2 separate regions of the Homo sapiens genome follow, and region 1 is linked to region 2. Evidence: fine-mapped expression QTL. A gene starts in region 2. The other region holds a variant in brackets. All regions are shown on one strand. Distances are from middle to middle.

Region 1 (15,468 bases), 29 kb before region 2:
AACTTCTCCTCAGACGGAGCCGCCATGGAGGAACAAAGGGTCACCATCAACAAAGTCCATTTAGCCCAATCAGCCTCCTGCCCAGCAAACCAGGGAGGCATGCTCTGCCCTCAGCCCTCAGGTCCCAGGGGCCCGGCCCTGGCAGCCTCTTTGTTATTCCTGGCTCCCGGGACCAGGACTCTCAGGGTGCCCATGCCAGGGAGGCCTGCATGGCCGGGAGCAGGTATTTCCTTCTGTGCCCTCTGCGGGCTCAGGAAGACCCCACCCTGCAGGTGGCAGGAAGGGGCTGTGTTGAGCAAGGGGCCCAGCAGCTGGAGTGGGCCTGGGTCTAACTCTCCACTCCTGTTTGCATTGGCAAAGCACCGCAGCTGACACGGGCTGCGGGAGCACCACGCTCAGAGGAGCCGGCGACGGCTGTTTCCCAGCTGCTGTGCAATTTGCTGAGTTCAACACACATGTATTGACTGCCCACTGTGTTTTCTGTGCTCACTTGGAAATTCTGTTGAGCGCCTACTATGTGCTAGGCACTTGTCTGTGTGCTGGGGATATGGCCTGGGGCAAAGGTGTCAGTTCAGCTCCCCTGGGAAGTAGACAACAGGTTGGAGTTAGAGATACAAGAACTGTGTTAGGAGAAGGAGCTGTAAAGGAGAAAGGGGCGAGGGGCAGAGCAGTCAGGGAGAGCATGGAGCGCACCAAGCACAATGCTTGTGAAGGAGAGGGGCCACTGGAGAGCTGGGCGGGGGAGCCTCACCCGGCCCCAGGGGGTCTCTGGAGCAAAGATGGCCAGTACTGGGGTCCCAGGTTGGGCAGGATGATTTGAATGTGGCGGAAGATCCCCAAGTAGCTGGAGGCTGTCAGCTGACTGCACTTCTTGCAGAGGCTTCTCTCTTGAAGGCCGACCTGAGAAGAGCACCTCCATGGTGGCCACGGGAGATTAAATGCAGCTGCCATCCTGTGGAGGGGATGGACAACACACCAAGCAGCAACTGCACCCCCTTCTAGAACAGAGGCCCCAAATGACAGTGCTTCAAGAGAGGTGGGAGCTGGCTGTGCACAGTGGCTCATGCCTGTAATCCCAGAGCTATGGGAGGCCGAGGTGGGAGGCTCACTTGAGGCCAGGAGTTCAAGGCCTGCCTGGGCAACATAACGAGACCCCATTTCTACAAAAAATACCAAAAAAAAATTCAGCTGGACATGGTGGCATGTGGCTATAGTCCCAGCTACTCAGAAAGCTGAGGTGGGAGGATTGCTAGAGCCCAGGCTAGGCTGCAGTGAGCTATGATGGTGCCACTGTACTGCAGCCTGGGTGACAGAGTGAGACCCAGTCTCTTAAAAAAAAAAAAAAAATTATTAAGGGGAGGGCAAGCCCTTTTCCATACTTTCTTAACCCTGCTGTTTAGGATGTGGACATGATGGTGCACTGTCTTGAGCTACATGGACAAGAGAAACACCCTAGGGATGGGAGAGAGAAGGGTGGATCCCTGAATAACTGCATGGAGCAGAGTTGCCACCGCAGCCCTGAACTGCCCTGCCACCCCTAGACAGTGTGCTGGAGAAATGAACCTCTGTCTTGTTAAAGCCACTGTTGTTAGACGTAGCTAAACCTAGATCCTAAATACAAACATAGCATGTTCTTTTTTTTTTTTTTTTTTTTTCCTGAGGCGGAGTCTCACTCTTCGCCCAGGCTGGACTGCAATGGCACAATCTCGGCTCACTGCAACCTCCACCTCCCAGGTTGAAGCAATTCTCCCACCTCAGCCTCCCAAGTAGCTGGTATTACAGGCGTGCGCCACCACGCCTGGCTAATTTTTGTATTTTTAGTAGAGACGGGGTTTCACCACATTGGCCAGACTGCTCTCGAACTCCTGACCTCAAGTAATCCGCCTGTCTCAGCCTCCCAAAGTGCTGGGGTTCCAGCCACTGCACCCCTCCACACATAGCGTGTTCTTTTTGTCCACATAAAACTTACCATCTTGACCATCGTGAAATGCACAGTTCAGTGGCACTAAGCACAGTCTCATTGTTGTGCAACCATTACCATCGTCCATCTCAAGAACTTTTTCGCCGGGTGCGGTGGCTCACGCCTGTAATCTCAATGCTTTGGGAGGCCAAGGTGGGCAGATCACAAGGTCAGGAGATCGAGGCCATCCTGGCTAACACGGTGAAACCCCGTCTCTGCTAAAAATACAAAAAATTAGGCGGGCGTGGTGGCGGGCGCCTGTAGTCCCAGCTACTCAGACGCTGAGGCAGGAGAATGGCGTGAACCCAGGAGGCGGAGCTTGCAGTGAGCCGAGATAGGGCCACTGCACTCTAGCCTGGGCGACAGAGCGAGACTCCGTCTCTTAAAAAAAAAAAAAAAGAACTTTTTCATCTTCCTCAAATTGAAACTGTCTCCAATGAACAGTAAACAGTAACTCCCCATTCCCCTTCCCTTAGCTCGTATAAGTGGAATCATATAGAGTTTGTCTTTTCACGGAATATTACGCCCTCACGTTCTTCCATATTGTAGCATGTGCCAGAATTTCCTTCCTTTGTAAGACTGAATAATATTTCATTGTACGCACAGACCACATTTTTGTTTATCGATGGTCATTTGGGTGGCTTCCACCTTTTCGTTGTTGTAAAGAATGCTGCTATAGTGAGCTGAGATCACGCCACTGCGCTCCAGCCTAGGCAACAGAGTGAGACTCCGTCTCAAAAAAAAAAGAATGCTGCTATAAACATGGGTGAACAAACATCTGTTGGAGACCCTGATCTCAATTATTTTTGGGGTATTTTTTGGTATATACCCAAAAGCGGAATTACTAGATTATATGGTAATTCTGCACAGTGACTTTTCCACTAGTGTTTAACATGGTGTCTTGACAGAATAGCTGTAAGATTACACTGAAAAAGCAGCAGGGGAAGTGCTGTGAAGGCGGCCCATGAGCTTGTAGGAAAGGCGGTCAGCAGCACACCTCCACTGTAATGGGTTTGTTTACCCGCTAGCCTACCAACAGCTGCAGGCCCCTTTCCTGGCCCTGGCCCTGCCCCTGCCCCACATTGCTCCCCACATTAGACCCAGCTGTGCTGCACCTCTGCCCTTCTGCCCCGGCTCCTGCTTGTTACAGGGAAGGGCTGGAGGGCTCTTTGTCCAGGTTTGTCATCCAATATGAGCACTCAGTGCACACGGATGGCTTTACCTGGCACTCAGCCAGTGAACTCAGCATCTGCTCCGGCCCTTTAGCACTGAGCTAGGCTATCTACCTTCATAGGCCAATCACAGGTTGTCACAGGTAAATGACCACATGTGGTTTGTGCCTCACTTTCTGACTTTGGAACATAATCCCCTGGTAGGGGTGGGGGAGGGCCATTTTTCTGGAGCTTCCTCCTATTTTCAAGCTTTATCATGCAGAACAAAACCTTCTAAGCAGAAGCCTCAATGTCCTCTTTCTGTGGGTTGCATGTGTCCCCCAAAAGGCGTGTATTCAACACTTAATCCCCGGTGCAATGGTATTGGGAGCTGGGGCCTAATAGGAGGTGTTTAGGTTATAAGGTGCCCACCGTCACGCATGGGTTAATGCTGATTATAAAAGGCCTTGAGACTGTGAGTTTGGTCTCTTACCCTCCTGATTTCCACCATGGGATGAGGCAGCAAGAAGGCCCTCACCAAATGCTGGGCTCAGGCCAGCACCATGCCCTTGGGCTTCCCAGCCTCCAGAATTATGAGCCACATAAATGTCTGATTATTATAAATGACCCAGTCTCAGGTATTCTGTTATAGCAGCACGAAATGGACTCAGACATCTGTCTGCCAGCCCTGCCCTCCTGAGGGCTGGAATGCCGTTCGCTGCACTTCCCAGCCTCTCTACTTTGCCTCACACTGACTTCCCTCCCTGGAACCAGCAGTTCCTGCTTATTTGGGCGTTTTCAGATCTTACTGATCTTTCAAGGGCACCTCCTCTGTGAACTTACCTGGGTCCTTCCCAGCTTGGAGGGATCTCACAGCACATTCTGTAGCCAGTACCATGTTCTACCGTCTCTTCTAAAGCACAGTTCCTGGGCCAGAGCCCCAGCATGGCCTGCAGGCTGCAGGAAATGTGAATTCCAAGGCCCCCCTAGACCTCCTGATTCAGAAACTGGTGGTGGAGCCAACAATCTGTGTCTTATTGGCATAGATAGTTCTAGGTCTACCAGGCTGCCAGGAGGCCTCAATGGCTTGACAATCATGGGGCACGAAGCAACGCCCGCGAGTCAGCAGCAGGGGGTCCCAGCTGGTCTCCCCAAGGGTTCTTCTTCCCTCCTCTTCTTCTTAAAGTGTGGGAAAATTTACAGCAAAGTACACAAATGTTGGTGTGCAAATCAATGCCTTTTAACAAATGTGTCCACCCCGTCATCACACCCCAGATGAAGACATGGAACATTTCCAGGACCCCAGAAAGCTCCCTGGTGCCTCCTTCCCGTCAATAACCCCATCCTCCACCAGCCCCACCAAGAAACCACCACCAGGACTTCTGTCTCCATAGATGACTTTTGCCTGTTTTTTTTTTGTTTTTTTTTTTTGAGACGGAGTCTCGCTCTGTCACACAGGCTGGAGTGCCGTGGCACCATCTCGGCTCACTGCAAGCTCTGCCTCCCGGGTTCACGCCATTCTCCTGCCTCAGCGCGTGAGTAGCTGGGACTACAGGCGCCCGCCGCCCCGCCCGGCTAATTTTTTGTATATTTAGTAGAGAAGGGGTTTCACTGTGTTAGCCAGGATGGTCTCGATCTCCTGACCTCGTAATCCACCTGCCTCAGCCTCCCAAAGTGTTGGGACTACAGGCGTGAGCCACCGCACCCAACCTTGCCTGTTTTTGACCTCCATACTGTGCATGCTCTTTTGCGTCTGGATTCTTTTGTCTGACTTTATCTGCGAGATTCATCTAACTTGTTGCATGGAAGAGTCATTTGGTCTTTTCCTCTGCTATGCAATGCAGGAGAACATTTGTTTGTTTTTAGTTTATAGAATGCAGTAAGTTTTCTTTTGGTGGACATCAGCACTTGTTTCTCTTGGGTGTCTGACCCTTTCCCATGCTTTCCAACCCTAGCTTCTAAGCTCTCTGAGGGTACAGAGTTTGCCTCTGTCTATCCTGGCCTGACACGCAGTCTCCTCCTGTCAGCATTTACTCAGTCCAAATTGCAACAGGGGCAGGTCCCTGCCAGCTGAGGGAGCTATTCTTCCAGCTCAGCAGGGGGTTGGCCAGTCTTGTCCTCTGGGACAAAGCCCAGCCAGAGTTCTGGGCACTGTGGTTCAGAAGGCCTGAGACACGTGGTTTTACCAGGGCTGGGTACCAAGAACCATGCTTGAGGCTGACGGCATTTCATTGGCAGCGTCTGTGGGGGGCTTGGGGACTCAGCCGTGGGAAGCCTGTTCTGCACACAGCCATGGCGCAAGAAATGCTTTTTCCTGCGACGGTTCAGTGAGAACCATGATGGCAGTGGTGCAGCATCCTCCCAGCTTGGTTTTTAAACATGGGAAGGGCTTCTAAAAAGTCACACAGCTGGTTAATGTTTGAACCAGGGTGGCACAGGTTTGTGCGAAGCAGTGAGTGGAGCTGTCTGAATGCCAGGAGGAGGGTCACCCTGGAGGCGGGTGACACAGGGGTCAGTGCAGGTCAGAGGCAGAGGCTGGGCCCAGATGCCATGCGAGCTCCAGGCCACTTTCCCAGAGAAGTGAGCGGCGGCCAGGCTGCCGGAGGCTGTGTGGCCTCTTCAGGCCCTCACTGGTCCTGATTTTGAGGGGTGACTCATGCCGGCTTGGACATCCACTTCTGGCTCAAGTTGCTCTGGGTTCCTCCACACAGACCAGAGGGATTCCTGCGTCACAGGAATCCAGGAAGGGGTGGGGGGAGTTGCAGGTTGAGAAGACAGAGGTGAGTGGCCCCCGGGCCCCTCCCCTGTTGAGTCACGGGAAGGGAATGGAAATAGTGTGTGCTGAAGCTGAGTCAGGGCCCAGCCTCACCTTCTCGGGACCTCATATGGGCTCTGAGGCGAGAGGCCCACCTGTCCCCCCCTCCTTGCTGCCTCCTCTCCCAAGCATGAGGAGGGCGAGCAGGAAGGATTTAGGTTAGCTCTCAAGAAGGACTTCCTGAATCGCGCCAGGCGACACTGAGAGGCATCTCTCAAAGGAAGTTGTGAAATCTTCCTTGGGACCAATTTGAGGTTTGGTCTGGGTCCAACCAGGACTATCTTTATGGCTCTAGAATATTTTCAAGTGTTAGACATTCCTTCCTCGACATGACTCAGGGAGCATCCGATGTGTGCCAGGCCTGGTGGCAGGAGCAGGGCCAGCTGAGTGTGGGACATGCCCCACTCTGGGGGTCTTCTCTAGGTCAGCATTACAGCAGCCTTGGAGAAGACGGCTCCCACCCCTTCCGTCCTCCCCTCTCCTGGCTCCCTTGGGCAGCCTGCTCTGCCAGCCACACCACACTCCACTTTCGGATTCCGGAAGGAAACTATGGGTAATAAATAGGACAAAGGGTCAATTTCCTTCCTGTGCAAATCCCAGTAGCATTTGCAGAGTGCCAAGCATGGGAGGGCGCCCTCCTAAGTGCTTTACCTGCCTTCACTCCACCACAGCCCTGTGAGGAAGGTGCTCCCCTTTCACAGAGAAGGAAACTGAGGCTCAGTGAGGTGAGCAGCCTGGCTACAGTGGCACTGCCAGTGAGCAGCTGACCCAGCCTGTGACCTGGGCTGTGGCACAGCAAACAGCCAGCAAGCACTGGGTGCTTTTCCTGTGCTGGGCCAGCACTTTGCAGGCATCGACTCAATTGAACCCTCACAACCACCACACATTGGTAAGAAAACCACCCTGACAGTCCTGGGAAAATGCACAGTCTTAGTGCTCTGAAGGAAACAAAAAAGGACACATCAGTCATCAAAGAAAACAGAGAGATCCATCTGGAGTGCCTTGAATTGGCAAATGGTTTAATTTTCCTGTATAGGGACGCTGGCCTTGCTGGGGCACCATGGAGCGGGGCCCCGTGCTGGTGGGTTGTTCACTGGGACCACCCTTCTGGAATGTGGGAAGGCGGCATGGCAGGACCCACCGAATGCCTTCAAAAGCCAGTGGTCCATGCCCCTGTCTCCTTCCTTAGAGTCTTCCAGAAAAGACTGGTCAGAGGTGCAGCACAGATAAACCTACAAAGCTTTTCATCAAAGCATCACTTACAATGGTGAAAAGGCAGAAGAATCACTGAATTCCACCAAGGTGGAGCAGCCGAGGAAATCGTGGGTAGAACACTAGGGAGTCACAAGAAACAACATATTTGAGGGGACATTTATAGCAGAGGAAAATGCTCATGATCTAATGCTACACAAAAAGGGCAGGATACAAAATAAGGTGTATTGGAAGAAAGAGGGTGGCATGGTTGTCCATCCACTGCTTTCAGGGACTGGACTAAGTGACCTGGATCAGAGGGAGGGCAAGAGATCTGCTTCCTGCCTGAGCCCTGTGAACAGTTGAAATCACTCGTGTGTCTGCAGGAATCATTCTTATATTTGCTATTCTGTGGTAACTTCAAACCTACACAAAATTTGCGAGAATAAAAAACACCCTGCCACATACTCTTCACCTACATTCACCCATTGTTAACATTTTGTAGTATTTATTTTCTCTCTCATTCTTTTTTTTTTTTTTGACAGAGTCTCACTCTGTTGCCCAGGCTGGAGTGCAGCGGTGCGATCTCAGCTCACAGCAACTTCCATCTCCTGGATGCAAATGATTCTCCTGCCTCAGCCTCCCAGGTAACTGGGACTGCAGGTGTGGACCACCATGCCTGGCTTATTTACTTGTATTTTAGTAGAGACAGGGTCTCACTGTGTTGGCCAGGTTGGTCTCAAACTCCTGATCTCAAATGATCTGCCCACCTCAGCCTCCCAAAGTGCTGGGATTACAGGTGTGAGCCACCACGCCAGCCTGTTTTTCACATTTCTATTTCATGCTCCAGAATTCAGGAGCTCTAAGAGGAGGCTGCCTGGGCGACCTGCCTGTGGTAAGGGTGGACAGGCTGCCTCCCGGCTGCTCTGAGGATGGCCCTGGGTCTGAGGGAGGGCATTGCACTCTGGCGTGTTTGGGACTGGGCTTTGGAGATGTAAACATGGAGCGTCCCTCAGGAACCCAGGGCAGGCGCCCCTGGGAAGAGGAATGGCTCCTTCTTTCCTCCCTCAGTCCCTTTCCTGAATGCCTATGTCACTTCTGGGCACACAGGGGCTCAGCTTGCAGGGAGCCACTCTCCAGGTGAGGCTAAGGTTTGGGGGCTCTCTCTGTGCTCCATCTGCTCCAGCACTCTCTCCTCAGATGGGCCTCCTCTGTTCTCTGCTTTGCTCTCCCTGCAAGGAGTCCAATCCTCGAAGGTGGGAGAGTCCAGAGAAGAAAAGAGCCAAATGGAGGAAGAGGACCCTGGGAACCCTTGGGTGCCGCAGAGCTTGGGAGGTGACGCGTCTGGCCCAACTCTGCTCCTCTCTGCCGGTTCCCAAAGCCAGAAGTAGG[C/A]AGCTCCCTTATCCTGTCTTTTCAGAGGAAGTGTTGAGTCCAACAGGATGGGGTTCAAATCCCAGCTTCACCACTGATTCTGGACAAGTTTATTCTCCTTTCTTAGCCTCTGTTTCCTCATCTGGAAAGTGGGGCTGTCTGAGACTAAACCTGAGAAGGCACAGGAAGGGCTTCCCGTGGCTTCTGCAAAGAGCTCCACGAACACTCGCTCTCCTTCATCCGAGCAGCAATCCTCGCTGGGCCTCAGGTGCAGGGGGTAGCGGGGAACAAAACACCATCCTTGTGCTTTTACAGCTTACAATCCAGTGATTCTCATCATCAGTACATGTGGCCAAAGGCCCCTGGCTGACTTGTAGGCTGTGGGGTTGAATATGAGCCTCTGGGTGGTGTGGAAAATCCGGGAAACAGGTGGAAAGGGCAGCTATTCAAACCCTGCGAGGGTGCCGGGGCCATCAGGTTACACGTGGCAGCGCAGGTGAACTCAGGTCTTCTCACCTGGGGCTTGTCAGGTACTAGGGACAGCAGGCACCCAGATTCCTCTAAGGAGCCACAGGGCTGGCCAGGCCTCGAGAAGAACAGTGTCAAAGTTCAGGGGACCCTTTCTTTCACCCCTTCAGGAGCTGATGTCCCTGCAGGGCCCCCACAAAGCACAGCCGAGTTTCTCCCACTTTCTCTGCATCTCTTTCTGCCTTCAGCTTCCTCTGTGGTGGCCTTTGTTTTTCCTGCCCATCTTTGGTGGCTCTCAAATGTCATCCCTGCTCCACAGAGAAAAGGGTGCTGAGTGGCCAACCATCCAGCATGAGGGTCCCCTGCAGCAGCTCGCTCAGGCCAGGGCCCTCCCAGGATGCTAGTCCTGTGAACGGATGGAGTCTCCTGCCTGCTTGGTCACCGTGACCCCGGTGGGGAGAGACAGTCAAGGAGCACAGGCAGGATTTGTGCAAAAGATCTGGCCCGTGGCTCCTTTCTCAGTAGGGGCTGTGGGCTTCCAACCTTCCCAAGATTCCCCATGCAGAGCCAGGGCCTAAGCCACGGACCCCTTGGTCATCCAGGCCCCTCCAAGGCCCTGGGCCCACCAAGACCTCTAGCCTTGAAGCACATGGTCCCCAGCTTATGTAAAACTTGGCATGAGTGAGAAACTCAGCCTCAGTGGGTGAAGACTGCTGCCTCTTTCTGGCCTTTCCTCCAGCACACTTCGGGGAGGTGAGGGGGCTCCAGCTTGATCATCAGGGGGTGCTCAGGCACCTCCTTGCATAGGAAAGTTGTTTCTCACCACCCCAGCATGGGCTTGGCTTCCGGAAGCCCTTCCTCCTCCTAGGCTGACTCACCTGCTTGGCGCCAGGACATGGGAGATTCAGAGCCAGGGGTGGGGTCCTGCGGTTGTGGGCTGCGCGTAGATGGTGAAGGAGAATCAGAGTTGAAATGCATAGAGGCTCTCTAGGACACGGTGCAAATGTACTGGCAATCCACCCACCGATTCCAACACCTGACCAAGATCCCCGGATGCAGAGCAGGCAGGCTTTGCCTGTAGCCATGGAGAAACCAAAACCAGTGGGAGGTTCCCTTCCCATCTCTGCAAACGTGCTGTTCCCAGGAGCTCTGTCTACCTTGAATGCCCCATTTCTAGCTCTAGGATTTGCATCTGAGAGTGGGATGTGTGTTTATGAAGGGAAGACCACAGAAAATAATCTTTTGGGAAAATAAATGAGCGTTCTTCCATGCTTGGCCTGCTTTGACAATGCAGATTTTCCTTTTACTTGGAGCTTACCTTCTCTAGGCTATTTTCAATATTTTCAGTGGATGTGAGTTTGTTCTTGGAGCCAGACTACCTGGCTTCAAAGCTGCTTGCCACTTCCTACCTGGGACCTAAGGCGAGCCGTGTAGCTCTAGGTCCCTCACCTGTGAAACGGGAAGAACCACGGTGCCCACATTGCATCATACACTTGCATATGCAGGCACATCCTACCTGCAAAAAAGCAAGGAGCAGGGTAAGGGGGCAGCTATCTTGATCATGTTCCCCAGAAGCAGACCCTGATTTGTTATGGCAGTGACTGATGAAGGACGGCACCCAAGGAGAGCAGTAAGGGAACGGGGGTAGCAGACAGAGAGGGGAAAAGCCATGCAAGTCTGTGGCCCCAGGCAAAATCCTACAGAAGCAGGTCCCTCGGGGGACTGTGGAGTGGAGTCACATCTCTGTTTCCCAGCCTGAGCTAAGGATACACATGTCAGTCATTAGTGAAGGGCCATCCTGCGGCAGGGGGACACTTCCAGCTCTCTGCAGAAAGGACTAAGAGGCTCCAATAGCCTGATGACAGTCTCGCTGCAAAGAGTCATAGGTGTGGACAGTTGGAAACCAAGGCCATTCAGGCCAGGAAGGGGGTGCATGTGAAGGTGCGAGGGGTCACGCTTCTGTGACCTGCTGGTGGAGAGTGGACAGTAGCCACACAAGACAAAAGTGAGCGTTCTGAATTCAGAGACCAGAAATGGAGGCTTTCACAAATATGCATGCACCATGCTTTTTCATGGGATAGTCTATCTGGAAGATCATTCCAGGCTGCAGTATGTAAAGCTACCTCATTCTTCTTTTTCACAGTTGCAGAGTTCACTGAGTGGCTACGTTATTATGGAGCTCACCAACCTCTATTGATGGGTATTTAGATTGTTTCCAATCTTGCTATTACAAGAAAAACATGCCACAATAAATATCCTTGTACTAGGGCCATCAGCACATTTGCAAGTGTCCCTGTACATTTCTAGGAGTAAGTTTTCAGATCAAAAGGCATGTGCATTAAAAAAAATGTTGATAGTGGCCTTACCAGTTTATACTCCCACCAGTAATGTGTGAGAGAGCTTGTCTCCCACACCCACGGTGACACAGTGTTATCACAGTTTTGGATGATTGCCAATCTGATAGTTGAAAAATAGTCTTGAACTCTAGTTTCCATTTGCACTTCTCTGATTATAAATAAGGCTAAACATTGTTTATAAGCTCCAGGACCATTTCTACTTCCTGTTCTGTGAACTATCTGTTCATGTCCATACTTGTGGAAGTTTTTTCTATTGAAGTTTTATTTGTCTTATTGATTGTTAGGAGCTCTTTATATATTAAGGAAATTTGGATCTTGAGTAGAGTGACTTGAGGATGAAAGCAGAGAGAATTCATTCATCCAAGGGCTTCCCGTTCGGCTACCTAAAACTCATATCCAAACCAGTCCTTTCCAGGATGTGGTTTTTTACTTCTTCTTTTGGTTTTGTGAGCTAACCTATAACCTCCCAGCACATTCCTTGCTTGCTTTGCCTTGGCTAGACTTAGCCAGAGCTGATTTCAATGGTGTGAGGAGTCTTGATGTATCCACTCTCCCTTACCAGGTTGAGTCTGAGGGTCTGAGTTGATGTCGTCCCCATCTTCCAGCTGAGATTCCCTGCTTTTCTCTGTGGGTCCCTCAACTTCCAGGTCCAGGCAACTAGTGACCCTTCCTAGCCAGCTCGCTCAGGGGCGTTTGCAGCCTCCTCCGCCCTGTCCTCATGTCTAGGCCAGAGGTCCTGTTTTCTTCACTTGGAAGGTGATGTCGCTGATTGATTTAAGAGCTTGTTTGGGCTCTCAGCTCTGGGAGTGTAGGTAGTGGGTCTCCCTTGATAATTGTGTCCCAGAGCTTCAAAGGCCAGGGCCAGCAGGGCCCTTGGGGATTTTGGGGACCAATCACCACAGTGGACAGAGGAGATGCGGTGCAGAGGGGGAGCTGTCCCAGGTCACACACTGTGTTGGGGGACACATGTGGGTCCAGGAGACCCTTTCTGAATCACTGTTGAGGGTTCGTTCTTTCTCTTGGCAAGCACTCCTCAATGGCTGGATTCCCCAGCTTACAGGCAGGGCTGTGCCATAGTGAGCACCAACTCCACATGCAAAGGCAACCATAGCTGCCCTGTAGGCCAAGGACAGAGGAGCCTGTTTGGGGAAGTGGGGAGGTGGCTTGGAGAAGATGGCCTGGAAAGACTAGCTTGGGTTGGGGCATGGCAAGTGCAAAGGCCCTGAGGCAGGTGAGAATGAGCATTTTGAGCATGGAGGCCACAGGGAGAGGGTCCCACGGGCAGGGGTGTCGATCAGAGAGACCATCCTCCAACCAAGACCATGTAACCAAGACCTGGCAGAAATGGAAACAATGGGCAAAGAGCCTTCTAGGCAGGGGAAGTGGCCCAGGGAAGGCCGTGCAGTTGGAAGGAGCCGAAGCGCTGCAATAAAGTGTGGCTCCAGACTGGCTGGGACAGAGAGAGTGAGCCAAAGCAGTCAGGCAGGATGGCTTGGACACAGGTGGGATCCTGCTCGTTGGTCTGACAGGCTTTTATTCTGAGTGTACCTGGGAACACTGTGGTGGCCATGGTGTTTCTAGCAGGCAGGCCGTGGCACTGGGTGAGAGATGTGACTATGTGGGAGTGAGCACTCCTTCCATGGCCATGAAAAGGGCCTTAGAGATTGTGGCAGAAGCTTTCCCAGTACCCACACCCCAGGCCCGGCCACAAGGATATGGGCCGTGCTTCTGGCTGCCTGGGGCTTTCTCTGCGACACATTGCACCCCACGGGGAACCGCAGAACCAGCTCCATCACCATCAACCCAGAACTGCTGGCAGCCAATGCCCGTGAGAGTTGGGTTCAACACCCCAGCTGGCTGGCCGGGCTGGGGAGCCTCTGAGGTATGTTCTGCTCCCCCAGGGAGGGAGCTCCATGTGCCCACAGCGCTCCCTGTCACCCCCTCCACCCCGCCAGGAAGGGATCCTCCCCCAGGGATGGAGGTTCAGGTGCCCAGAGTGCTCCCTGGCACAGCCTGCCTCGGCTCTTTCTCTTGCCTGCCTCACTTCCTGCCTCATTTCCTGACTCAGCAACTGGTGTTTTCTGGACCCCTCCACATACGCTCAGATCCTCCTCTCAGGTCGGGGGAGCCCACCATAGCCAGGGCTCTTCCCAGAGACATACATGTATCCCCACTCTCAGGCCCTAGCCACTCGATGTCACCTGATGTTCCTGAACTATGACTCCCACAAAAGGTTGGGATCCATCCTTCCTGCTCACCGCTGAACCCCCAACTCCAGGCAGAGCCCCTGTGCATCGCAGACTCCTGGTAGGTGTTGTTGGAGGATGGTGAGGTGGGCCCTGAAGGCCAGGGAGGCTGAGGAAGAGTCCCCAGGCCAGGGAGAGAGAGGCTCAGCCAGACCTCCTGGGCCAGGAGCCCTCAGACCTCCCGCAGGTGAGGGACACGCTGTTCTGAACAGAGGCTGAGTGAGTTCTGTCCACAGCAATCCTGTCGAACCTGTCTGGCCGGGTACAGAGCTTCAGGGCCCATATCCACGCTCAGGGGCAGGTGTCCTCAGGCGAGGACCATCAGGCAGCTTTCCCCCTCCAGGGCCCCTCCCTAGACAGGGCTCACACCAGACTTGCCCAGGGCCACAGCCCAGGACAGAGTGTTTGGCCTGTCTAAGGCCCAATATAGATTCCAGAATTCATTCATGGTTGCTGAACATTCCAGTTCAGCTGGGGACATGGGACGGGCAGGAGGGGTCTGCTGCCTAATCTGATGGATCTTCCATCCTGGTGGGGCAGGGGGCAGATGAGAACCAAGTGGGCACACAGGGAGATGGGAACTCAAGGCAGGGGGATGGTGGCAGCTCCATGGGCAGCTCTGAGGGCCAAGGACAGAGGAGGTTGTTTTGGGGGAGTGGGGAAGGTGGCTTGGAGGGGGCGGACTACAAAGACTAGCTTGGGTTGGGGCATGGTGAGTGCAAAGGTCCCGAGGCAGGAAAGAATGAGGATTTTGAGGTCCTGAACAGAGGCTGGCAGTGGGGAGAAAGGACATGGCAGCGGGGGTGGGGAGCAGGCCTCAGGGCCAGGAAGCCATGGGGGCAACCAAGTGTGGTTCTGGGGGCATGGAGGAGCCAAGAGGAGAGGGTGAGGTGGAAGGTGGCCAGACTCGATTTGTGTTTTTAGCAGACTCTGCAGTCAGGACTTGGGATCTGGACCACAGGAAGGGAGAGCGACAGCTGGGATGTGACCATTTTCACTGCAGGGCACCTGGGAAGGGGAGAGGGCGTGAAGTGGCCCAGACGTGGCTTTCCATTGGTGACCTCGTGCCCCACTCTCCACTGCCCCTTTTCACTTAACACTTCAGGAAACAGGTTCAGAGAAGGGAAGGGAATGGCCCAAGGTCCCTTGGCCCAGAATTGTACCTAGACAGGTGCACCTGGTCCCAGACTGCTCTCTTCTCACCACCCCACACTGCCCCCAATCTGTCAGGTAAGAAACTTTGGGTGGGAAGGGAGAAGGAAATTGAACCAGGGAGGTGATTACTGCCTCTCACACACAACTGGGCAGCAGGCGAAAGGCCAGGCGGCCCAGCCCCCTATCCAGGGTCCCCAGAGCTTGTTATTGGTATGTTGTGCTCACCTCCCTGTCCAGGAGTGAGAATTGGCTGTGTCTGACTCCTTGGGAAGGCTGTGTCCCCAGCCTGGGCCCTGTGGGTACTTAGTCATCTCGCACCCCAGAGTCACTCTGACCCCCGATGTGAACTGACCACTGAGCTTCAACAAATTAAGGGCCAAGTGCAGGAACAAAGTTGGATCCCACCCTCTTCTGCTTCCTCAAGCCACGGCCCGGAGTGATGAGCCACCTCCGCTCTGACCTCACCTCCTCCCAGCTCCCTGACTCCTTCGGCGGGGGGCCTGGCCAGCTTGTTCGGCCACTCTGGGCTCCAGGCTCTTCAACTGGAAAGAGATGCTTGTGGAGTTCCTCATGGCAAGTCTGGGCAAGCCAGCCTGACGGCCAGCCTGCGACTCCTTGTCCAGAACTCTGTCAACTCCACCAGTGCCTGTCACGGAAACCGCATGGCCACCAGCTTCAGGTGACAGGCCTCTTGCCTGGGTGATGAGCTTCCCAGGCCCATGCTATGGTGTGCGCTTTTTCACAGGAAGAGGAT
Region 2 (15,468 bases):
CACTATAGCCTTGAAATCCTAGGTTCAAGCAACCCTCCTGTCTTGGCCTCCCAAGTAGTTAGAATTATGGGCATGAGCCACCATGCCTGGCTAATTTTTAAAAAATGTTTTTGTAGAGATGGGGTATTGCTATGTTGCTCAGGCTGGTCTGGAACTCCTGGCCTCAAGCAATCCTCCTGCCTCAGTCTCCCAAAGTACTAGTATTACAGATGTAAGCCACCACATCTGGCCTCAACAAATAGTTTTCAAACAACTTCTCTGTAACAGACACTGCACACTCTAGTGAACAATGTTTGTATACCTCTTCAATGTTCTTTTTTCTTCTTAGAATAAATTCACAGGTTGGGATTACTAGGGCAAAAGGTAAGCACATTGTTAAGGCTCTTGATAAGTATCACTAAACAAAGCTCCAGGAAACTTGTACTAATCTGCTCTTTGGATTGACAATTTTATCTTTTTCAGCCTTTTTTTTCTTATTACAAAAATAATTTCTGTTTTTAGGAGATAACTGGAAATCACTCACTGGGCATTTAATGATATTAAAGAATTATTGTTTTTTTAGGTATGATAATGGTATTGTGGCTACTTTTTGAAAATAGTTCTTATCTTTTACAGACACACACAGTAGATGAGGGAGTATGGTTGAAACAAGACTTGTCCTGAGTTGATATGGAAGCTGGGTAATGGATACATCCACCTTCATTATATGATTTTCTCTATATTAGTAAGAAAACAAAAGCTTTTATTAAAAATTTTAAACATGATATAAATCTCTAGCTTAAGTGTGAGTCCCCATTCTTTCACCTCCCAGGGTTAACTGCAATGAACGGTTAGGTGTATGTGCCCCTGACCTTCTCCATGTAAACACTAACTGTGAATATTGCTAACACACACACTCTTAAAACAAGGATGAGCTACTACAATGCACACCATTTCTCCAACAGCTTTTCACTTCACCATATTTTGAGATGGATGGCCACGTCAACACTATCTCAGTCTTTAACAACTAGCCCCATGGTACTCCCCTGTATCAAAGAGCCATAATTTATTCATCCGATCCTCTAATGATAGACAATTGGAGTATCTCCAATTTTTGCTATTAAGAACAATGATGGAATGAACATCCTTGTACATAATATCTGTGTACCTGTGTGAGCAATTTTACAACCTATCTTTCTAGAAGTGGAATCACTATGTCAAAGTGGTCACAGACTTAAAATTTAAATAACATGTCCAACTTGCCCTTCTGGTGGACTTTCTGTGTCAAGTGCACTACATTCTCTCCTAGTGCACATCTGGAGACTATTGTCATTTGGTGCCTGCTGTAGAAAAGCCTCATGGCGTCACAGCTGGAAAGGGCCTCCGAGATCTTGTGGTCTTGCTTCCAGGGAAGGGTGGGGCCCAGCCCCCGATGCTGTCAGGGCCACGTGCAGCTCCCTGGGCTGGAGGTTGTGTAGAGCAGTGCTCACGAAGATACTGCCCATGTCTGAATCCCAGGCTTACCATTTACTGTTGTATGACCTTGAATACTTGCCTTGTCCGTGCCTCAGTTTTCTCATCTGTAAGCTGAGGATAATACTAATTCTGGGGTGGCAACTGGAAAGGGGTTAGGAGATTTTTCTTGAAGCTACATTAACAAAGTATATATTTATTTGGGGTGGCTTTCAGGGGATTGATGGATGATGGGGGGTGGGCACTAAGGACTCCCATCAGACACCACCAGCGCTGCCAGAGCTAATTTCAAATGATGACAGCTGGACTTAGTGAGATTCGACGTGACGAATGCCCAGCACACGGCACACAGCCTGGCACACTGTCAGTGCTCGATGGTTGTGAATTCTTGAATGCTGACAGGTGCTGTCTGGGACAGGGAGACCAACATTTCAGAGAGACTGTCCAGGAGAGGGAGGCCCGAGCAACAGGAAAAGAGGGGACCCAAGAAACAGCCTAATCCAGCCCGCCACTTACTACTTAAATAAAGTTTGATTGTAACACAGCTGCGCCCCTTCATTATGTAATGTCTATGGATGCTTGCACTTGACAATATCAAAGCTGAGTAGTTTCGACAGAGACCATATGGCCTGACAAGGCTAAAATATTTAGTATCTGGCCCTTTACAGAAAAAATCTGCCAACCCCTGGCATAGGGGTTATAGGCATACTAATACATGCTGATAGTTCTTGAGCTCACACCGTGTTTCAGGGACTGTTCTAAGCACGTCACATATATAAATTTCTTTAGTCCTCACAATACTCGTATGACATGGCTACTATTTATGGTAGCTAGTCTCAATGGTGGCCCCAGTGAACCACGTCTCCTGGGGCTGACGCCTCTGTGGGCCCCCCACCTCGAGTCTGGGACATCCTGTGCCGTGTGCTGACTAATGGCATGCGGTCGAGTGCCAGGCCTGGCATTAAGGAGGATGGGTACTTCTGCTTCTTTGCTCTGGGGAACACTGAGGTGCTGCACGCAGAGCAGAAGGGGAAGCCATGGGGAAAGGAGAGGCTCTGAGGCTGCAAGGAAAGGACGAAGGTCCAGCCAGCCCTGTCTCAGTCCAGCCTCCAGTGACCTCACCCAGCTACCATGCAGCCACACTTACAGCAAGCAAGACCAGCAGGACTGCCGGGCAGAGCCCAGTCCACTCTCAGAACCAGAGAGACAAGAAAATAGTGCTCAAGCCACTCTGCTTTGTGGGGTGGGGTGGTTCTGCAGCAATAGCTGGCTGAGACACACCACACCAGAGCCTTCGCCTTTCCACCCTCCTTTATCCAGTGGTTCCAACTCCTGTGTGGTTATGAGAATCCTCCAAGTAGCCTTTACAGACACCAATTAAATCAGAATATCTGGAAATGGACCAGAATAGGAATCCTTTTTTTTTTTTTTTTCTGAGACAGAGTCTAGCTCTGTCACTCAGGCTGTAGTAGCACTGTGGCACAATCTCGGCTTACTGCAACCTCTGTCTCCCAGGTTCAAGCCACCCTAGTAGCTGGGATTACTGGCCTGCACCATGATGCCTAGCTAATTTTTGTATTTTTAGTAGAGATGAGTTTTGCCATGTTGGCCAAGCTGGTCTCGAACTCCTGGCCTCAAGTGATCCACCTGCCTCGGCCTCCCAAAGTGCTGGGATTACAGGCCTGAGCCACCGCGCCCAGCCTCCAGAGTAGGAATTTTTTTAATCCTCCAGGATTTGAGAACCACAGCTCCACCCACTATTTCCAAAACTTGCCTAGCAGAAATATTTTAAAAACAGATTCTTCGGCTGGGCACAGTGACTCATATCTGTAATCCCAGCACTTTGGAAGGCTGAAGCAGGAGGATCTCTTGAGCCCAGGAGTTCGAGACCAGCCTGGGCAACATAGTGAGACCCTGTCTCTACAGGAAAATTAGCAAGCAAGGTGGCACACTCCTGTAGTCCCAGCTACTTGGGAAGCTGAGGTAGGAGGATCACTTGGGCCTGGGAGGTCAAAGCTGCAGTGAGCCCAGATCACACCACTGCACTCCTGGGCGACAGAGTAAGACCCTGTCTCAATAGCAATGACAAAATAGATTCGTGCACTCCAACAGATACACAATTCCATGGGAGGCCCTGGAAACCTGTAGCATTCACACATTCCTCCAGATGAATTTTATTATCAATGATTAGCAGAAAAAGGGCGAGATGAGAGCCCAGCTCTCAGGTGTGGAGAACTGCTTGGCAGTTTCCCATCAGGTTAAACATTCACTTCCCAAAACTTAGCCATCCCTAGTCTTGGGTATTCCCAATAGAAATAAGTGCTTGGCCGGGCGCGGTGGCTCATGCCTGTAATCCCAGCACTTTGGGAGGCCGAGGCAGGCAGATCACGAGGTCAGGAGATCGAGACCATCCTCACACAGTGAAACCCCGTCTCTACTAAAAAAATACAAAAAAAATTAGCCGGGCGTGATGGCGAGTGCCTGTAGTCCCAGCTACTCAGAAGGCTGAGGCAGGAGAATGGCCTGAACCCAGGAGGCGGAGCTTGCAGTGAGCCAAGATCGTGCCACTGCACTCCAGCCTGGGCGAAAGAGCGAGACTCCATCTCAAACAAAAAAAAAAAAAAAAAAGAAAGAAGTGCTTATGTCCACCAAAGACAAGCACGAAGATACTCGTAGCATTATTCATAATGGCCCCAAACTGGAAACATCCTGAATGTCTATCCACGGGAACATGGACAGATAAATTGTAGTATTTCCACACAAGGGACTACCAGGCAGCAATGAAAAAGAATGAAGTACTGATATATACAGTAGCCGTGTGGATTGAATTTCACAGGCATACTGTTGAATGAGAAGAGCCAGGCATAGCTCGCAGCGGATTCCACTCATCTATGGTGATGGAGATCAAAATAGTGGTTACCTCTGGGTATCTGTGTGTAAATTCTGCTCCCTAACAGGACACAGGGAAAACTTCCCAGGATGGCAGTCAGAGCCACAAATCAAGACTTACCTGCATTTGGGGCTCACCTGAGCGGCCTTTTCTTGCTTGCTTGCTTATTTGCTTTTTTGAGATAAACAATATACATTGAGGTGTACACAATGCAGTGAAAAAAGCATACAGCCCAGTGAATCTTTACATGTTTACACTGAGTATTGAACTTCATGCAAAGTGCTGTTCTAGGCCCCTGGAAAGGGAAGCCAAGGTTATGAGACACAGACTGTGTCGGTATGGATTTCATAATCTGGTGGAGGAGATATTACAATACAAGGTGGAACGATGACTTTTCATCCATTCACCCATGGGGTGTTTTTCTTGTTTGTTTTGTTTTTTGAGACAGAGTCTCACTCTGTCGCCCAGGCTGGAGTGCAGTGGCACGATCTCGGCTCACTGCAAGCTCCGCCTCCCGGGTTCATGCCATTATCCTGCCTCAGCCTCCCTAGTAGCTGGGACTACAGGCGCCTGCCACCAAGCCTGGCTAATTTTTTGTATATTTAGTAGAGACAGGGTTTCACTGTGTTAGCCAGGATGGTCTCGAACTCCTGATCTCATGATCCGCCCGCCTCGGCCTCCCAAAGTGCTGGGACTACAGGTGTGAGCCACTGCACCCCCATGGGGTGTTTTTGAGCCCCTGCTCTATGCCAGGCACTGAACTAGACAGGGGAAATGGAGTAGCAACCAAGACCCCACTCTACCGTGAGGGTTTTGGAGAGGAGCGCAACTAATTGATTCTACCTCCTAAACATTTTCCAAATTCATTCCCTTGCCTCCCACTGACCCTATCCTAGTCAGGCTGCTACCCTCTCTCCTCTGCAGCTCTCTCAGTCCTTGCCCCTGATTCATTCTCCAGATCAGCAGCCCTTACCTAAGTGCTCAGCCGAAAAAAATTCAAAATTGATGACTGCCCCTGGCCCAGGCAGCTCCGGTGCTGGCCTGTGTGGGCTCAAATCTTCACTTGTAGGATCTATAATTGTGACCACAGGCAAGTTCCTGATATGTCCTGAGCCTCGTGTGTGTCTTCTATAAAATGGAGATGAAATAGTATTAACAACAAAAACCATACCTGTCTCCCTGAAGAGGCTAGGCTTGCACCATCCACTACTCCTCCCAGTGCCTCTCAATGCTGGTCACTCCTGCCTCTCTGAACTACCCAGTGATAGAAAGCTGCTTCTGTTCATGAACACACCCTTTGGTTTCAAGGCCTGAGACTCTATAATTGGTGCCCCAGTTTGACGTGTCTTTCCCTTCACCTTCTCTGGCTGGGTCTTACTCAGCTCCAGACTCGGCCTAGGCATTGCCTCCTCCAGGAGCCTTCCCTGAAGCTGCCTACGGGGCTGGGTGCCCCTGTGTGGGCCCCCACAACACCCCGGATTGAACTTCTCTGTCTCCTGTTTCTGTTTGTCTCCACTTGCTTGAGTGTGGGCTCCTGCCGGGCAGGCTGCCTCTGAGTTGCTGAATGAAACTCTTCTTTGCGCCCCTACTGTGGACCCCTCCAGTCCAGTGCAGGTGCTGGATGTGCCTACTGACCTGAGCAGAACATGCTGAGCACTTTAAGGGAGGTGGCCTTGAGGAATGGGCAGGACATCAAGAAAGAAAATATATATATATATATATATATATATGTATGTATATATATATTTTTAAACAAGTTGTACATGCAGACAATACTAAATTCAGCAGAAACAAAAGGGATTGCAATGAAAATTAAAAGTAGGTCACCTCTCAACCACCCAGCTCCCCTCCCCAGTGGCCACCTCTTCTATCAGTTTCTGAGTATTCTCTGCAGGGCAGAATTGTCAGTCTTCCGTCCCTTTTTTATTTTGCAAAAATTTAAAGCAACAGAAAAGTTGCAAGAATAGTACAATAAGGCCGGGCGCGGTGGCTCACGCCTGTAATCCCAGCACTTTGGGAGGCCGAGGCGGGCGGATCACGAGGTCAGGAGATCGAGACCATCCCGGCTAAAACGGTGAAACCCCGTCTCTACTAAAAATACAAAAAATTAGCCGGGCGTAGTGGCGGGCGCCTGTAGTCCCAGCTACTCGGGAGGCTGAGGCAGGAGAATGGTGTGAACCCGGGAGGCGGAGCTTGCAGTGAGCCGAGATCCCGCCACTGCACTCCAGCCTGGGCGACAGAGCGAGACTCCGTCTCAAAAAAAAAAAAAAAAAAAAAAAAAAAAAAGAATAGTACAATAAACACCTTTTGCCTAGATTCACCAATTAACATTATGCTACTTAACAAGCATTATATCATTTAATGTTCACATTAATTAATTAATGCCAATTTTGTACATGAGGTCACTGAGGCACCAGGCAGGTTAAGGGACTTGCCCGAGGCCACAGAGCTCCTGCCTGGTGGAGCTGGGCTTTCCCCCTTAGGCTGCCAAAGGACTTTGATCTGCCTTCCCACAGCTCCCTTTTGAGGAAAAGCATTTTCTTACACTAAGTTGAAATCCACCTCCCTGGGATATTTACCAGATGATCCGTGGAAAAGTACACAGCTCTGGAAGCATTTGCTACTTCTCCTCCTAAAACCTCCTCCATTCCCTGAGCGACAGCTGCTGTGGCTGCCACTACCACATGCTCCAATGTCACCTCCTCCGTGAAGGCTGGGTTAGCTCACCCCCCTGTTTAAAGACTCACCATGACTCCCAGCTGCCAGTGGGATGACATGTGCACGCCTGGGCTTGGAATACAAGGCCTGGGTGATAGAGCCCTCTTCCAATCCCTCTTGCTCCTTCTTCCCCTATCTCCACTTCCAGCCACACTCAACCCTCTCACTGTCCACTTAAACTTCCCCTCCTCCTTGAAGCCACCCGAATTTTTCTAAAGAGCGCATTTCTCCCCTCTCTGGGCTCCTGCAACCTTCTGCCTGAGCCTTTGACAGCCTTTTCCAGGTTGTCTTTTGGCCAGGAGGCTGGACAATGGAGGACGGGAGTGACAGCTCGGCCCCTTCCTAGCAGAGTGATCCTACACAAATTACTCCAGGTGTCTGACCCTTCATTTCCTCAAGCACATCATGGGGGAAAGAATGCCTAGCTCAGCACCTGGCAGAGAGTCAGCCTTCGCTCATCTCCCCTAATGGAGCTGACAGCTCTTCAAGTCCGCTGACATCTTCTCTTAGTCATCCCTTGAAATACTACCCGCTGTTACTTCTCTGCTCCTCAGTCTCCTCCTATGTAAAATGGGGATGAGAAAGGAGAGGTTGCGAACCTTTAATGAGCGAGCCCTTGGAGTATCCAGCCCTTCCCGACGCTAACTGACTCCTACGAGGGGGCCTGGTACACAGTAGGTGCTAAACTAATCCTCTCCGAGCTGGGCTTGGGGAAGATGCCTCCGTTGGGTGTACAGCGTGGGCGCGGGAAGGCGAGCCTGGGAGCGAGGGGGTTGCAGAGAGGCAGCCTGAGGTCGGCTCCGCCTTCCCCCGCATCCCCCGCCCGGGCCCTGCAGCTGTCAGCCCGGCCGGCCTCGGCGCCAGTCCACCAAACCTGAACGTCCCATGCCGGCGCCCCCACCTTCCCGGCCTGCACAACTTACCTTGCGCTCGGCGGCCCTCGGTCCCGCCCCCGACTGCCATTGGCCCAGAGGTTCCTTTGTTAGCGAGAGCGCGCCAACCCCATTGGCCGGTGGGGCTGCCGATCGCGTCGGGCGCGGCCCCGCCCCGTACGCCCCGGCACCTCCCCGCGCCCGGCCGCCCGCCCGCCCGCCCGCCCGCCCGCCCCCGTAGTGCGTGAGGCGCTCCGGTCCCATTTGCAGCGGCCGCGGGGCGCCGAGGGCAGCTGCGGCGGCGCGGACGAGCCGGGACGGCGGCGACCGGAGCCTGAGAGGCGGGCCGCAGCGGGAAGCAGCGGGCCCGAGGCCGCGTCCATGGGCCCGCGGCGGCCGGGCGGCGGCGGTGCGGGCGGGAGCTGGGCGTCGCGCGCGCTGTGAGGCCCGGGCGGCTCAGGAGCCTCGGCGCGTGCAGCGAACCGCCCGCCGGGAAGGAGGCCGGGCCGGGCCTGCGGCGGGGCCGGCGAGGGATGCGGCGCGGCCGCGCTGAGCCCCTAGCCCGCCGGGAGCGCCAGGCCGGCCAGGCCTGCGCCGCCGCCGCCGCCGCCGTCGCCGCCGCGCCGACCATGTCGGCAGCCAAGGAGAACCCGTGCAGGAAATTCCAGGCCAACATCTTCAACAAGAGCAAGTGTCAGAACTGCTTCAAGCCCCGCGAGTCGCATCTGCTCAACGACGAGGACCTGACGCAGGTGAGCGACTGGGGCCGGCCCGGACACCTCCGTTCTGGGAGCCGCGGGTCGGCGGCCGGGGCGCCGCCAAGGGCTGCAGGGAAAATAAAAATGGAGCAGGGAAATGCGCGAGTCCTGGGGCATGGGGACGGGGACGGGAAGTGCATTGACAGAGCTGGGACAAAGGGAAAATCCTCGAGTATGCCGAAAAATAACATCCTTTCCCGTTCCCATTGCCCGGCTGTGTGATTCATGCTTTTTGGGTGACTCAAAAGTGCCTGGTTTCGCTTAGTAGGAACAAAGCGCTTAGGGATTGCATGCCGCTTGACGGGACCCCCCTGAGATTCTGGCTTGGGACTGGACTTGGATTTGTCCAGCCAGAGTGGCCCAGGGGTCGGATTGTTGGGGAGGACTGTGGGCTTCCGTCTAGTGGGACGCAGCCTGCCCCGATTCTGAATCATCGTCACTGTCAAGCACTGGAGAGAGGTGAAGGGGTGTCCAAATCTGGCGAGGAGGGTCTTGTTCTTGAACTTAGTTTGGCAGGCCGTAGTTTAGCGGGGAGCTGGGACCAGTTCCCTGGTCACTGGCCGAGGGGTGAGGAGACCTGTGGGTCCTCGGGAAAGTTGATTTCTGTCTCCCAGCCTTAACTGTCAAACAGGGCTTTGAACTAGTTATGACTCCCAAACGTGCATTAGAGTCATAGCCATTAAACACAGAGTTCTGGGGCCCCCGCCCTGGAGTGACTGGGGAGATGGGGAATTTGTATTGATGAAAGGCTCCAAGAGGCTTGGCTGCAGCCCCCATGGCCCTTGGGAACCCCTGCAGTGATTGCTGTTTGAACTCCTAGTGTTCCAGGATTCCGAGCCTTGTGTGCACCTCCTTGGGATGTGCCTCGGTACCCTCCCCACGGCCATCATCTCCATCCTCTTCAGAGCTTTCTCTCAGCCTCCTGAATGAAGCCAGGGGAAGTCCCTTCACATTCCAGTCCAGTGTGACCTAGTTGTAGCCACTCCTGTCGCAGAAGAACCCCTTAGACTGAAAACGAGTGAACGGGCCTGGTTGTTTTTAATGCCACTTCAGTGCACCCAGGGTTTGACTTGTTTACATGGCCGACTGGAGTAGGGTGGTGGGGCAGGGGTTACGGCCTGGGGCACGGGGCCTTTCTCTGAGGTCAGGTTTCCAACTGCCAGGAAAAGATTCCTTTCATCTAAACCCCAAAAGCTTAACGAAACACTCAAGGCTGCAAAGTCATAGATGGTTAAGATACCAAGGGTTTTAAGGACGGTCAGCTTGGGACGGATAGAACTCATTTACCTCGGAGGGTGTTTTGGAGTGTAAAGGAGAACTTGATTCCTTCTTCTCATCTGGATGCTTTTTTGGATGAAACAGTTTATGCGATGAGGAGTTGTTAGGAGACTTTGCTTCAGGTCTTGGCTGTCACTTCCAGCTGTGTGACCTTGAACAAATCCCTTTACTTCTGTATCTTTTAATTTCCTTATCTGTAAATTGGGAATCCTGGTCCCTGGCTTACCTCCTTCACTGAGCATTTGTGAAAAGCAAGAAATGATATTTTATGAAACTTTTTTCTCTTACAATTTAACAAACCAAAAAAACCTGCCACTTTAAGAAGTTTCTGGGCAAGGGTTGTTCTGAGAGAGGTTTGTAAGTTTCCTGGTTATTCTAAGCAACTGTCAAAATTGGTAAATTTACACCTCATAGGGGCTGTTTTCGAATTCTTAAGCTTAGATAAACTAGGATGGAATCTGCATGTTTGAGTCCAATCTGCTAAGATTTTTTTTAATCTGTTGATTATTAATTGGATTCACGGGGAGAGGCAAACTTAAAATACTGTACTCTCACTGTATTCAAAGTTGAATTGTGGGTTTTGAAACAGGCCTGAGACCTTCAGGGCACAACTGGAATGGTAGTTTCTGAAATAATGAGTGGGGTTATTTGTGCTGGGAGAGGTTAGCCCAGCATTCTACCTCCTGGGATCTTTCAGGAAGAAACTGCTCTTGAAAAGAGAGGAGGGAGACTCAGGGCTGTTGCCAACAGCCTTCTCTGCTGCTCTCTGCATCCGGCCCTCCCTCTCACTCTCATCCTTATGGCTCCATTAGAAAACCTCAACCAATCGGTTCCCATCAGTCTCCCCCAAGCCCCTGCTTCCTGCTGCCCCTCCCAGCCTGGAGCTTATTTTAGACCGTCAAAGCTGGAAGATACATCAGCCACCATCGAGGCCACTCCCTCCTTAAGAGGAGAGGATACTGGGCCCAGGGAGGTGGTGGGCAGCCTTGGCCGGCTTTTGCTCTGGAGATGTCATCTTCCCAGGAGCAGACATTTCTCTGAGCCTTTTGGTTTGAGGTTTATTTCCTCAGCTGTGGGTTTTGTTTGTTTGTTTTTCCCCTAGAGAGGCACAGAAACCTCTTGCAGGGACTGTATTATGGCATCAGACCTGGAAGGGACTTGGAGATCAGCTAATGTAACCACTTCCTCTTACCGGTGAGAAGATTGAAACCCAGAGAAGGGAAGTGACTTGCCCAGTTCAGGGATGGAGCCAGGATTCTGAAGCCAATGTTAGTTCCCCTACTCCTGTTCAGGGTCTACAGTGGCCACACCATGAGCACATGATGAGGACAATAATGTCAGGGATAGTTATGTTGCAGGAGGTGCCTTGAGAATGCTGGCTTGGAGCAGTGGAGTTCTTTGCCTTTTCCTCCTCACGGAAATTTGGAGTAATCTGGGATAAGTGATAAGTGACCGTCCTTTATTACTTGTTCCAGGCCCCTGTTCACAGAGTGTCATTTATCCTCCAGTTTTCCTGTGCATTTCTCAGCGACATACGGACCCAAATATACAGTTTTTTTTTTTTTTTTGAGGCGGAGTCTCGCTCTGTTGCCCAGGCTGGTGTGCAGTGGCGCGATCTGAGCTCACTGCAAGCTACGCCTCCCAGGTTCATGCCATTCTTCTGCCTCAGCCTCCCGAGTAGCTGGGACTACAGGCACCCGCCACCATGCCTGGCTAATTTTTTGTATTTTTAGTAGAGACGAGGTTTCACTGTGTTAGCCAGGATGGTCTTGATCTCCTGACCTCGTGATCCGCCTGCCTCGGCCTCCCAAAGTGCCGGGATTACAGGCGTGAGTCACTGTGCCCAGCTCAAATATACAGTTAAACCTTTTTATCCTGAACTGTGTGCATGTATTTGCTCTGCGACATATTTTTTGTTTTCTGCTTATCAGCATATCTTTACGTTCTTTTCATGGTGTTGCATATAAAGATGCCAGAACCATTTTGCATATTAGGCCTTTAGGAGTGTACTATAATTTAACCCGTTTCCTTATTGATAGACATCAAGGTTGCTTATGGGTTTTGCTGTTACATACAGTGAATGTTTCGGCAAAGAGTCTTATAAATACTTCTGGGTGTGTGTGCGTGCATGCATGAATGCAAGTATTTCTCTGGGGGCAGATACCTATAAATAGAATGGCTGGGTTGACATCAAGCGCATAAATTTTTTTTTTCAGATACCACGAAATTGCCTTCCAAAAAAGGCTGTGTGATAACATTTCCAGGACTGGATATTATCAAATGATTTAATTCTCTAATAATTTTCCTAATTACTCATGAAGTTGAGCCTTTTTTATAGTATTTACTGAGTATTTTTGTTTCTTTTGTGGATTGCCTGTTCGTATTGCTTGCCCATTTTTCTGTAAGGTTAGTTTTTCCCCCAGTTGATTTGTAGGAGCTTTCTATAAGTGCTTTAGGTCAGGGGTCTGCAAACTTTTTTGGTAAAAGGCCAAATAGTAAATATAATTTAGTGTCTGTGGGCTATATGGTCTCTGTCACAACTGTGCAGACTTTGCCGTCTCATCACAAAGGCAGCCGTAGACAACACATTAACGAATGAGTTCGAATGAGTTACTGTGTTCCAGTAAAACTTTATTTACCGGCAGGGCGCAGTGGCTCATGCCTGTAATCCCAGCACTTAGGGAGGCTGAGGTGGGTGGATGATCTGAGGTCAGGAGTTCAAGACCAGCCTGGCCAACATGGTGAAACTCTGTCTCTACTAAAAATACAAAAACTAGCTGGGTGTGGTGGCACATGCCTGTAATCCCAGCTACTCCTTGGGAGGCTGAGGCACGAGAATTGCTTGAACCCAGGAGGCAGAGGTTGCATTGAGCCAAGATCGTGCCACAGCACTGCAGCCTGGGCAACAAAGTGAGACTCCTTCTCAAAAAAGTAATAATAATAATAAATTTAAAAAACTTTATTTACAAAAACAGGCAGCTGGCATGATGTGTGGCCTGTGAGCCATAGTTTGCTGACCCTGAACTAGATATTAATCCGATGCTTGCCACGTATTGCAGGTATTTTTTCCCAGAATGCCACTTGTCTTTTTTGTGTGGTTATTTTTCTTTTTCATAATATAAATGCAGTTGGTCTTTTTTTTTAATAGTTTGTAGTTTTAATGTCATGTTTAAGGCCTACTTTCCAAGATTTGTAAAATAATTTCTCATATTCTTTTATAGCTATTTTTATACTTAGCTTTTTAATCTATCAGACTTGTTTTTTAGGAAAATAATTCTGGTTAAAGGCAGAAGATCTACTGGAGGCTATTAAACTGGGTAAATTACAATCAAGGCATTCTCTCCAGATCAGTGCTGGTGAGGATGGAAGGAATCAGACTCTAGGGACAGGATGTTGTTGGTTGATCAGAGGTGGGTGTTGAGGAACCTGGGGTAGTTAGAAGTACCTTTAACAGAGATTGAGAAGAACAGATTTGGAGTAAACTTGGGGGATGGGGAGGGGTAAAAAATAATATGGTAAGTTTGACCCTTATGGACGTAGAGGGAGGCTGGGTTGGAATTCTTAAGTCTTGGATGTGGAGGTGGTTGCTGAAATCATGGGAGTGAGTGTGAGCACTCAGGAGGCTGCATAGAGTGAAAGGAGAGGAACCAGCCTAGGAAGCCCCCATGTAGTGGGCAGGCAAAAGGGGAGCAGGTGCAGAGGCTGGGAGGTGAATCAGAGGGGTGGGCATTAGTGGGAGAAGCAGGTCTGGAACCCAGGGTGCTCAGCTTCTACATCCGCGTGTTGATCTGGGGGTGATGTCTCTTTCTCCTGCTGACTGTGTAACTTCAGGCATTGCCTCTGTGGAAGGAGCCTGCAAGCCTGTTTCTACTTCTTTGTCTAGCCCTGTTTTTTTGTGGGACCTTGGCTGGGTCATTTTCATTGCTCAGGCCTGTTTTCCCATCTGGAAATGAGCTCGGTCTTGATCTCTCCCAGGGTTCTTAGTCTTCCTGGTGTGATTCTGCCCTTGCTGTGCCCATACCCCACTGCCAAGGCTCCAAAGCTGCGGGGGCCTCAGGTGGGAATTTCAGACATAGAGGGTGTGGGCCAGGACGAGGTCTCAGGGAAGCATTTCATCAGGTTTCCCTTTGTTCCTGTAGACATTCGTAGAAGTTCTAAGGCATAGGACTTCCTGATTTGACTTAATGTGTATCTCAGAAACAACGGGGAGATTTCGCATCCCCCCCTTGTAGAAGATCTGTAACAGGAGTTGGTGTGTTGCTTGGCAGGGAGCGTGTCAAAAATCTCAGACACACAAAATCCCATTTCAGACGGCCAAGCACCATGACAAATGCTCAGCGTTGTCATCAGCGAAACCCAAATTGAAACCACAGTGAGATATCACTTCATACCTGTCAGGATGGCTAGAATTAAAAAAATAAGAATATAACATGTTGGCGAGGATGTGAAGAAGTTATAACTCTTGCACGTTGCTGGTGGGAATGAAATGGTGTAGCTGCTGTGGAAACAGTTTGGGGGTTTCTCAAAAAGTTCAGCATAAAACCTACCACGTGAGCCAGCATTCCCACTTCTAGGTATATGCCAAGAAGAATTGAGGACAGGTGTATTCAAACAGATACTTGTATACAAATGTTCATAACAGCACTACTCACAATAGCCAAACGGCAGCAACAATCCAAGTGTCCATCCACTAATGCGTAGATAAGCAAATCATAGTGTATCCATACCATGGAATATCATTCAGTTCTAAGAAGGAGCGAAGTACTGAGACATGCCACAACATGGACGAACCTAGAAAACATTGCGCTAAGAGGCAGACATGAAAGGTCATGTGTCACATACTGTGTGATTCCATTTATGTAAAATGTCCAAAACAGGTAAATCTGTAGAAACAGAAAGCAGATCGGTTGTTGCCAGAGCCTGAGGGTTGGGTGGGCAATGTGGAATGACTGCTAATGAGACTGGGGTTCTATTTTGGGGGTGATGAAATGTTTTGGAACTAGATAAAAGTGCTGGTTGCACAGCCTTGTGAAATGTACTAAATGCCCCTGAATTGTTCACTTCCAAATGCTTCTTGACTTATGATGGGACTTATGGTGGGGGTACATCCAGGTAAAACCCATCAGACCTATCACAAAGTCAAAATTATAAGTCAGGGACTGTCTGTACAAGAATCGCTCTCTCACACACACACACCTGCCTTCTGCTCCTTGTGTCACCTGGAGTGAATATCTGATTGTTTCTAGAGTCTAGACCAAGGCTTGGCAATTTTTTTTATAAAGGACTCTTCTTTTATCCTGGGGAACTCCTTCCCCAAGCCACTCTTTCCCACCTGAATGACACAGTTGGACCAGGTCGGTGGTTTTCAAGCTTTCATCAAATCCCGGAGCCTTTTACTCAAAAGAAATCTTGTATATTTTAGGTTTTGCAGGCCAACAGGCAAAATCGAGGAGGTTGTGTAGGATATAGCCACTTAAAAATGTAAAAGCCATTCTTGGTT

The links. PIP is the estimated chance that this variant, and not a neighbour inherited with it, causes the effect. A credible set is the group of variants that fine-mapping cannot tell apart.
Region 1: its variant is the best candidate, but not a certain one, in a credible set for the expression of MPRIP in monocytes after R848 (Quach 2016, PIP 0.60).

What each region holds. Positions count from the first base shown.
Region 1 is chr17:17,004,997-17,020,464 of GRCh38, forward strand. No RefSeq gene overlaps it. Among named protein-coding and RNA genes, the nearest start is that of LINC02090, 24 kb to the left of the region's middle. RefSeq lists enhancers at 1-266, 6,092-7,084, 14,776-15,468. The variant C/A (reference allele first, on the strand shown) is at 8,510.
Region 2 is chr17:17,034,288-17,049,755 of GRCh38, forward strand. MPRIP (myosin phosphatase Rho interacting protein) reads left to right here and starts at 8,170. Exons shown (of 24, transcript NM_001364716.4): 1 at 8,170-8,684. The coding sequence starts at 8,562. It overlaps LOC124903938 (a long non-coding RNA gene), which reads right to left and starts at 8,038. Exons shown (of 3, transcript XR_007065644.1): 1 at 7,984-8,038; 2 at 7,494-7,621; 3 at 5,056-5,470. RefSeq lists enhancers at 2,313-2,372, 8,857-10,056 and silencers at 7,735-8,194, 9,868-10,162.